Homo sapiens: one gene and its partner. The protein of the gene in region 1 interacts with the protein of each later gene in a biochemical or structural test. Each region holds a gene or a part of one and is shown in the gene's direction. Other genes may lie near its edges.

What was found.
Region 2: the proteins of CNOT4 (region 1) and CNOT6 form a complex in vitro, tested with the Homo sapiens proteins (one study listed by BioGRID).

Annotation. Positions count from the first base shown.
Region 1 is NC_000007.14:135,499,399-135,504,826, reverse strand, and holds part of CNOT4 (CCR4-NOT transcription complex subunit 4), read left to right. Parts: intron 1-5,428. UniProt on the Homo sapiens protein: Has E3 ubiquitin ligase activity, promoting ubiquitination and degradation of target proteins. Involved in activation of the JAK/STAT pathway. Catalyzes ubiquitination of methylated RBM15.
Region 2 is NC_000005.10:180,562,956-180,568,383, forward strand, and holds part of CNOT6 (CCR4-NOT transcription complex subunit 6), read left to right. Parts: intron 1-1,533; coding exon 1,534-1,638; intron 1,639-1,719; coding exon 1,720-1,788; intron 1,789-2,864; coding exon 2,865-3,022; intron 3,023-4,132; coding exon 4,133-4,287; intron 4,288-4,893; coding exon 4,894-5,048; intron 5,049-5,428. UniProt on the Homo sapiens protein: Poly(A) nuclease with 3'-5' RNase activity.

The DNA of each region.
Region 1 (5,428 bases):
GAAACCCCATCTCTACTAAAAATACAAAAATTAGCCGGATGGGCCGGGCGCGGTGGCTCACGCCTGTAATCCCAGCACTTTGGGAGGCCGAGGCGGGCGGATCACGAGATCAGGAGATCGAGACCATCCCGGCTAAAACGGTGAAACCCCGTCTCTACTAAAAATACAAAAAATTAGCCGGGCGTAGTGGCGGGCGCCTGTAGTCCCAGCTACTTGGGAGGCTGAGGCAGGAGAATGGCGTGAACCCGGGAGGCGGAGCTTGCAGTGAGCCGAGATCCCGCCACTGCACTCCAGCCTGGGCGACAGAGCGAGACTCCGTCTCAAAAAAAATAAAAATAAAAAAAAAAAAAAAAAAAAAAAAAAATTAGCCGGATGTGGTGGCACGTGCCTGTAATTCCAGCTACTCGGGAGGCTGAGGCAGGAGAATCATTTGAACTTGGGAGTCAGAGGTTGCAGTGATCTGAGATTGCGCCATTGCACTCTAGCCTGGGTGACAGAGTGAGACTTTGTCTCCAAAAAAAAAAAAAAAAATTAGTAGATCTTATATTACTGCTTTTGGAAGCAATTAGTGAATGATGTAGGCAAAATAGTGATTGAATTTTGAAAAGCAATTAGACTGAAATTTCAAAGGGGTGGAGCATTTCTTAATAGCAACAAACAGATACATGGTCATTAATCCAAATATCTGAAATTTTCTGAGCATGTTTTTCAGAGTTTGGAATAGAGTGGAAGTGCTAATTTTCTGATTATTTAAGAACCTTTTAATCCATTCCCTTAGAGCATCAGGTGTTTTCAGATTGTGAATTTTCTAAAATAACATTGGCTGATTTGTGTTATTGAACATTGGTTGTAGCAACTTTTTTCCTTTTTTCCCCTTTATTTTCTGCCTCCCATATTTTGCTTAAGATTTTTTTCTGAAGTTTTAAAGTTTCATCAGTTATTTGGGTGGACCGTCTTGTGAATGCTCTAATTGAAGTTGTATAATATAAACAGTGTTGCTTTTAGTAGTTAGGATTAATTTTTCTTTTCATGGAAATCCTTTCTATTTGATTATATTTTTTCCTCTAACTTTTATTAATTCTTAGATGAGAATTAGGATTCTGCATTAAATCTTTCTGCACACATTTTTCTTACTGTCAGTAGGGACCTATGTCTTCCTTGGGTAAAGAAAATGTTATATTTTGGTTTTGCCATTTAAAATGATATAAAGACGTTATTAGTACTTTTTTAAAAAGGAACTTTTGGTATTTTTAAACAAGTACAAAAGTAGGTATGAACCACCATGTACCTGTTACTCAGCTTCAAATAGTATCAAATCTTAGTCATTACATTGTTTCATTCGTACTAGAACTTTTTTTCTTTTTTTTTTTGAGATGGTCTCTGTTGCCCAGGCTGGAGTGCAGTGGCATGATCCTAGCTCATTGTAGCCTTGAACTCCTGGGTTCAAGCAATTCTCCCACCTCAGCCTCTCAGGTTGCTCTGACTACAGGCACAGGACCATGCCCAGCTAATTTTCTTATTTTTTGTGGAAATGGGGGCTCACCCTGTTGCCCAGGGTAGTCTCAAACTTCTGGGCTTAAGTGATCCTCTTATCTCAGCCTCCCAAAGTGCTGGGATTGCAGGTGTGAGCCACTATGCTGTGATATAATAAAATGTCTTTATTTATTTATTTTGAGATGGTGTCCGACTCTGTCACCCAGGCTAAAGTGGCAGTGGTGCCATCCCGGCTCACTGCAACTTCTGCTTTCTGGGTTCAAGCGGTTCTCCTGCCTCAGTCTCCCAAGTAGCTAGAACTACAGGCGTGTGCCACCATGCCCAGCTAATTTTTATATTTGTGGTAGAGACAGGGTTTCACCATGTTGGCCAGGCTGGTCTCAAACTCCTGACCTCAGGTGATCCACCTGCCTCAGCCTCCCAAAGTGCTGGGATCACAGACGTGAGCCACTGTGCCCTGCCAAAATCAGGATTATTTAATCAACTTTTCTTTTTTTCTTTTTTTTTTTTTTTTTTGAGATGGAGTTTTGCTCTTGTTGCTCAGGCTGGAGTGCAGTGGTATGATCTTGGCTCACTGCAACCTCCACCTCCCGGGTTCAAGCAACTCTCCTGCCTCAGCCTCCTCAGTAGCTGGGATTACAGGCGCCCGCCACCACACCTGGCTAAGTTTTTGTATTTTTAGTAGAGACAGGGTTTCACCATGTTGGCCAGGCTGGTCTTGAACTCCTGACCTCAGGTGATCTGCCCGCTTCGGCCTCCCAAAGTGTTGGGATTACAGGCCTGAGCCACTGCACCCAGCCTTAATCAATTTTTCAAACAGACTTTGCTTATGGAACCACTTCTTGGAAAATTTGGCAGAACTTCTTTGTAGAGTTTATCTTGTCAAGAATACTTTCATAATGATATAATTAGCACTGTCCAAAGCAGTGTACAAATAATGTGTGCTACATGTAGTATGAGTCCAGTCTGTTTGTACAGGGATATCTTCAGACTAAAGTCCTAGGAGTGAGGCTTCCTGAAGAAGATGAGTCTTGAATAAAGATTGTGTACTGTTTGTATAGGCTAGCATATCCAGAAGGAGAACATTATGTACGTTCTATATAGGGAATGGAAGCATGTCTTAGTTCATTTTATGCTGCTATAACAGAATACCACAGACTGGATAATTATAATCGACAGAAATGTATTTGGCTCATGGTTTTGGAGACTGGGAAGAACCAGAACATGGCACTGGCATCTGGCAGGGCCGTCATGCTATGTCATCCCATGGTGTAAGGTAGAAGAGCAAGAGAGGGTGAGAGAACAAGAACAGAGAGGGCAGAACTTGCTTTTTATCAGGAACCTACTTCCATTACTATGGCATTATCATTGATGAGGGTAGAGCCCTCATAGCCTAATCACCTCTTTTAATGGCCTCAACTCTTAATACTACCACACTGGCAATTAAATTTCAATATGCGTTGTGGAGGAGACATTTAGACCACAGTAAAGAATGAGCAAACACTTGATAGGGGCTAGCATGATGTGAGAGGGATGTAAGGAGTCTGATCTCAATGGAATAAAGTGTTAATTACTGGGAATGGTGGCAGATAAATTTGTATTAGTAGGGTAGAGCTAGATTATGAAAGGTGTATTGGTGTCAGGTTGAATTTAATCTGCTAAGCAATAAGAAGCCAGTAGAGGTTGATAGGGAGCAGGAGAAAACATGAGAGTGTTTTTCAGAAAGATTACTCGTTCAATAGTGTGCAGCATATTTTGGGGATGACACTTGAGGTTTGTTTGAAAAATTAGAGACCAAGCCACTGAGGTAAGGAGCTATTCTGAGAGACGTTAGGATGGAAATTCTACAGGATTTGTCAGATAATTGATTCCATCTTCTCTTTAGTCCCTCATGCCCTAAAGTGACACCAAGGTTTTGAAGAGTAGAGAACTGAGGAAATGTGGTCTATTTGTCTTTGATAGTAAACTGCAATTTGTTATCCAAGCCCAGCTTTTGCGAAGAAAGTGATAGATGATTACTCCAATAACAGCCTCAAAAAGTTTTAGTAGGCCTGGTGTGGTGGCTCACACCTGTAATCCCAGCACTTTGGGAGGCTGAGGTGGGAGGATTGCTTGAGGTCAGGAGTTTGAGACCAGCCTGGCCAACATAGTGAAACCCCGTCTCTACTAAAAATACAAAAATTAGCTAGGTATGGTGGTGTGCCCCTGTAATCCCAGCTACTTGGGAGGCTGAGGCTAGGATAATTGCTTGAACCCGGGAGGCGGAGGTTGCAGTGAGCCAAGATGGCACCACTGCACTCCAGCCTGGGCTACAGAATGAAACTCTGTCTCCAAAAAAAAAAAAAAAAAGGTTTAGTAGAAAATAGCTACCAGTGTTTCTGAATGATTTTAAAGATATTCACTGGAGAATAGGAGCTTGGAAAATAAAGAAATATTATCTTTATTACAGTAAGAGAAATGAACATACTTCATTTGTAAAAGAGAAATTTAGGCCTTACCTGCTTCCTATGTGTATATTAGTTCAGAACGGTTATTAGGAGACTACTCACATTTGAATAGCTATAACCAGTAAATATTACTGGATGACTTTAATAATGGCCTGATCAGAGCTAAAGAAAATTCTGATGAAGTAGGGCATTAAATATTTCTAGCTACCAACTCCCTTTAAGGATGAATAAAGGTAGGTCCGCAGGCTGAGGAAGTATACAGGGAGATTGTGAAATGAAAACTTATCCTTTCATTTACTTCGATATCTTTGTTTTGCACAGGTAATATTAAAAAACAGGTCTGGTTAAACATCAGCCGTATATGTTTTGGTTGGAATTTTTTTTTTAAGTTCTGTGAACTTTGAAGTTTTTTTAAAATTCTTTGTTTTGGTTTGTAGACCCTGCATTAAGCCAACTTTCTGGATCTGTTGTGTATTTCTGGATAGCATACTTTGTTTTGTGAAGGAAAATTTTACATTTTATTTTAAAGCTGGGGGAAAAAAGTAGGTTTCTTGTTTCTCGCTTTGTAAATGAGGTAGATGAATAATACTGTATTGCCACTTATTATCTTCATGCTTCCTTCAATGTCTCAGGTATTCCTCTACTGTATGTAGCATGTGGATCTCAAAGTTTCCCACAGTTGAGTCTGAAAACATCTCAACTGTGCTTATAATTTTAAAATTAAACTTAATTTTACCATTTTCTTTATTGTTATTATAAAATATAGGACCTATCATAATGCCATGAACCTTTTAGTGACTTGGGAAATAGTGATTAAGATGATGCAACATAGTACATTATTGGGAAATAATCTGTTTTTCGTTGGCATCGCCTCTATCCTTAGACCTCTTTCATTCTAGTAATATGACAGAAATATTTTTGACATTTTAAAACTTCCTCATTTAGCTGATCGTGTGTGCTGTTGAAAATGAACACTAGAATAGAAAGCCATTGCCTTCTCCTTGGGGGGTTTGTTTTAACAGGGGTTTTCATGTTTTAATTTTGGATTTGAGATTTGAGTTGAGATATCCATTGTGTAGAGAATCTTGAGAAGGATTATCCATCTTTCTTGCTGTCACCAGTGTATGTGGGAGGGAAGAAAATATCAAATATAGGGTATACAGGAGAACCTTAGTATTTGGGAATATCTTCAGTGATAGCTGCCAAATCCAGTGTTTTCCCCAGGAAATTTGTATTTAATCCCTTGGAGTATGGGATGACTTTATGAGTGTCATAGTGGGTTGCTGTGGGTGAGGAGAGGAGAAAACGACTCCCTGTTTGAAAAATCTTTTCCAAACTGTTCGAAAATTTGAGATTAAATTGAATTAATCTCAAATTATTAATAGTTTATGTTTTTTTTTTAATTCATACAGTGCTTGGGAAGAAATTGGTTTTCTGTGAGTGGCCTTGGGGGTGCTTTGGGTGCTTTCCTTACCCAGGAAAAGGGA
Region 2 (5,428 bases), on another chromosome or scaffold:
TGAGAGAATGGTACTCTTGTAATTGCCTTCCTGCAAATACCTACTTTGCACTTAGAGCAGCACATTTTTCTTTTTATAATTCTTAGAATCCTAGAATCTTAAAACCGAAAGATCTTAAAGATAAATGAACTTTGCCATTTTTCCCATCCATGCAACTCAGCTTCTTTGAAGGATACTCCACTGCCTCACAGCACAGGGTGTCTCAAATAGTTAACAGTGTTTGCCAACCTCTTCTATTCGGCCTTGGCCTTTCCTGTTAAATTTTTTTTTTTTTTTTTGAGACAGAGTCTCGCTCTGTTGCCCAGGCTGGAGTGCAGTGGCGCGATCTTGGCTCACTGCAAGCTCTGCCTCCCAGGTTCACGCCATTCTCCTGCCTCAGCCTCCTGAGTAGCTGGACTACAGGCGCCCGCCACCACGCCTGGCTGTTTTTTTTTGTTTGTTTTTGCTTTTTTTTTCTTTTATATTTTTAGTAGAGACGAGGTTTCACCGTGTTAGCCAGGATGGTCTCGATCTCCTAACCTCGTGATCCGCCCGCCTCGGCCTCCCAAAGTGCTGGGATTACAGGCATGTCTTCCTTCTGCTCTTTGAGTCCAGTCTTTTATGAGAGAATAGGAAAAAACACTTCCTTTAGGTTTTGATCATTCTTATCTACCATATCCTTTAGTTTTTCTTCATTTGGTATGGTTAACATCTTTGACCATTTTATCTGCCTTCTTCAAACTGCAGAATTTGTCTGGTTTTCTTAAAATGGCGCTGTGGCATCCAGAATAATACACAATGCTTGTGTAGGATGGATAGGAACTTTGCTCCATGAAACCCTGCGCTGCACTGTTGTTATTTGTACTTTTATTTCTCATGTACATAAGAAACCCTTCTGAGAGGATTTGAGATTCTTGTAGGTATATGTAAATCATTGTTTTTGCTCTCATTTTGGAACAAAGCAGTTATTGAATTTACAGATGGCTCATGGCCCTGGGATTTTTTCCCCCTCCTTAGTGAGTTAATTCTTAAGCCAAGTCAGCCCCATTTTGTTGCTTTGTTCAGTATGACTTTAAAAAATCTAAGTGCAAGTGTATATTTGTCATTAGGGTGTTTTGTTGTTAGCTTTGTGACATTGTAGAGTTTTGATTCTCTGATGCATTACGCTGGCTTTCATCCTTCCCTTCACTGTTTCCTCTGCCCACCCACTCTCCCAGTCACCTGCCTGCCCCGTTCGTGTTTTGCTCACTCTTGTTTGTTATAACCATCTGTATTATTGAAAGTGTTGGCAAGGCAGGGTCAGATATAGAGCACTGCTAGTGCATTTCTGATTGACATCAGCCCATTAACATTATGTTTTGAATGTGTATATAGAACATGGTATGAATCATTTTTACTTATATCAGAAACTGAAAAAACAATATTTTCTATAGTCTGACATCTTACTAGTAACTATAACATAGTTATGGATGATCTGATAATTTTGATACATTTTAAAATTTTGAAACATTTTATTACTTAGTTTCATTTTACTTATTTCAAAAATATTTCCAGGAAATCCCCTTACCCAGGATATATTGAACCTTTATCAGGAACCAGATGGAACAAGACGGCTGCTGAACTATTTGCTTGATAATTTGTCAGGTACTGCAAAAAGAAGTAAGTGGTTATTTGTTTAAACCTTTTTATTAGGAAGACGTGTAAGAATATTGCTTAATTCTGTATTTTCTATTCAACTAGTTACAACAGAACAACCACCTCCAAGGTCTTGGATTATGTTACAAGAACCAGATAGGACAAGGCCAACTGGTTGGTAGTCTTTTATTTTTTAACTGTTATTTTTGCTCAGTCTCTATAAGCCTAACAGTATTGTCAGCATGCTTAGATTACAGGTAGCATTAAGACAAAATGTTTAAGGTTGGTTTGGTTTGGGAGGTAATAAAAAAGAATTCTTGCTCACATGACCTCTATGTATACTACATTGTGCTATATAGAAAGTGTGCTATAAAGCAGTGCTTCTCAAACGGGCAGTTTATCCCCCAGAGGACATTTGGCAATGTCTGGAGACAATTTTGATGGTCGTAACTGGGGAGAAGTGCTGCTGGCGTCTGGTGGATGGAGGCCAGGGTTGCTGCTCAGCATTCTATAGTACACGGCACAGGCCCCCACAACAGACTTCACCTGAAATGTCAGTAGTGCGACTCTGGTTGAGAAACCCTTCTGTAGTGTACTGATGAAATTCACTTAAAATGAATACACCCAAATTTTTCTCTATGAGAAGTTTCCAAATCCTAGCATGTTCCAAATGGATTTGACACTACCGAGTTATAAGAGAGCCAAACCCTTACTTAGAGGAAAGTGGAACTAATGACTGCTCATCTCCTTTTAACCTAAATTCTATGTAAATAGTTTGGGAGCTTTCATGGTGCGTGTAACAAAATTTGGTCTGTGATACCGTTTTCATTTTGCATGAATTAACAATAGTTGTGCTGTAGAAGAAAATGAGGCATGCCTATTAAGGATACTACCTATCCAGTTTCCACATCTTACATTAACAGTTGGTAGCATGGTAGAAGGAGTATAGAAATGAGGAATGTTAGGCTCAGAGACTGAAGGGCTCACGAGCTTAGACTTTTCACTTCCAGACCTTCTGTGCCTACCTCTGTAGCAGGTAGTACATTGTATTCTAACTTGTTCACTTATCTATCCTGCTTGCATTATCCGTCTTTTATTTATCCCCCATATGTGGCGTACAGTAGCTTTTCAGTGACTATAGATTGAATGAATACGGTCAAACTTAACATTTAAGTGAAAACCATTACTGAAATTAATTATATATTTTTTTCTGCCACATGTGTGAATAAGTAAAGTTATCTTTCCTACAGCCTTGTTTTCTGTCATGTGCTATAATGTTCTTTGTGATAAATATGCGACCCGGCAGTTATACGGCTACTGTCCATCATGGGCGCTAAACTGGGACTACAGGAAAAAGGCCATTATTCAAGAAATCTTGAGCTGCAATGCTGATATCGTAAGTCTTCAGGTAAGTCAGACAGAAGACAGTCAACCTAGCATTGATAAAGGAAGGAGCAACTAGGAATACATTACGCTGACACATTTGAAGTTTTAGCTTCAGTAGTTCTTAAAGTACTGCTTTTTTCTGTTATTAGTGAATCCTGGGAGTACTGCCTGCTTTGCTTTGCAGTGCTATGTTGCAAAATAGGCAAATGTGTTAAGCTGGGATTTATGCGTTTGCCATGACCGCTAAATACTCACCTTCCTCCTCCCTCCAGCGTCCCTGCACTATTTTTGAATTGGGTGGCAAAGTTACTGAAATTCTAGCGTGGTCAAGCTATAACTTGCATTGCCGACCATGTTGCTAGAACAATTAAGGCACCGTGTAAAAAGGACTGACTTGGTACACGAACATTTTGGGTTCTCAGTGCAACTCTCATAGTCACTCATATGATCTTGAACATGTTACTTTCTGCCCAAGGGTCTGAAGTTATGATTTGTAAAGTTCGTCGACCTCTGTGGTTCTTGTTCCACCTCAGTTCTAAGACATAAGGAAATACACATGCATAGAAGTGTGTCTTTCACTCACTGTTCTTAAACAACAATGAGTTGCCCTTGGTACCTAGTACCTGTAAAATGACAAGTCGCTGTTCCAGTTGGTTTCAGATAAATAGTGTTGAAAAGATGTTACTTTTTTTTTTTTTTTTTTTTTTTTTTTGGGTGGTGGGGAGACAGGCTCTTTCTCTGTCCCCCAGGCTGGAATGCAGTGGCATGATCTCAGCTCACTGCAACCTCCGCCTCCTGGGTTCAAGTGATTCTCAGCCTCCGTAGTAGCTGGGATTACAGGCATGCACCACCATGCCTGGCTAATTTTTGTATTTTTAGTAGAGATGGGGTTTCGCCATGTTGGCCAGGCTTGGTCTGGAACTCCTGGGCTCTAGTGATCCGCCCGCCTCGGCCTCTCAAAGTGCTGGGGTTACAGACATGAGCCACCATGCCCGGCCCGGAAAGATGTTACATTCTTTAATCTGCAGACCAGTCCTTTGAAATTATTTCAAGCTCTCAAACTATACATAGAAGTTAATATGCAGACTAATTTTTGTCTTATGAAATAACTGTGCTGTTTACAACTTTTCAGGAGGTTGAAACGGAACAGTATTACAGTTTTTTTCTGGTAGAGCTGAAAGAACGTGGCTATAATGGATTCTTCAGTCCTAAGTCTAGAGCTAGGACAATGTCAGAACAAGAAAGGAAACATGTTGATGGCTGTGCAATATTCTTCAAGACAGAAAAGTAAGTCATCTTATTTTTTAAAAAGAACGTTTTCTCAGTATTTGCAGGGTGGGGGCCAAGGGTGTGGAAACTAATTGGCAAATGAGAGAATGAGGCACTATATTATTACTGAAGCAAAGAATACTGTTTGACCTAGGGGGTTTTTGTTTGTTTTTAATCATCAGAAATAACCTTGTTTTGGAGACATGCTTAAAGTACTGCTGTTTCTTCAGGTGTTTACTAGGGTTTAACTCCCAATTGTTAATTGAAATACCATGTAGTTAAAATTCCCTCTATGACGGTACAGGGATTCTTAAACCCATACTTTAGAAAAGAATTGTTTAAAAATTACAAGGTAGAATATTCCAACATAAAACTTAAACAGAAGATGACTACATTTTCTTCAGTTGTAAAAATATTTCAAGTTGTTATTTGTATCAATAACAGACTGAGAGCAACTTTAAATGGATGTGGGAAGCTTGATGCTGAACGTGGAGGATTTTCCGTAATGTGATTTAAGTGCCATCGTATCTGTTAAGGAAGTTTGGGAAAACTGCGTTTCCCACAAAGCTAACCTCTTGGTATTCCCAACTCTGTGTGTGTGTGTGTGTGTTGTTTTTGTTTTAGATTTACTTTGGTTCAGAAACACACTGTTGAATTTAATCAGCTAGCCATGGCAAATTCTGAGGGGTCTGAAGCTATGCTGAACAGAGTCATGACAAAAGATAACATTGGGGTTGCAGTACTGCTAGAACTTCGGAAGGAATCGATTGAAATGCCGTGTGAGTGCCCTTCACTTCCTGTAAAATTGACCAGCTCTGACTAGACATCTTCAAAAGAATAGAAAACAGAAATTTCATTGTGTATTCATGGTCTTGTCTAACACCTGAAGAAACTCAGTGAGAAGTTGTCTTTCCTAAAATGTATCTCTTTTTCTCTACCACAAAGCTTAACATGAGAAAGCATTGCCCATTAAAGTATTAGAAGCCTTGAAAAGCATTAAAAAACCTTTTTTTTTTTTTTTGCTCCTAAGAATTTTTCATATAAAATAAATGTTGAAGTAAATATTAATTAAAATAACTGCTCAGGGGTAAGAACTCCATACACTTTTGTAATTTTTTGGCAGCAAGGATATTCTGTAAGCTAACTTCTTTTCCTGATC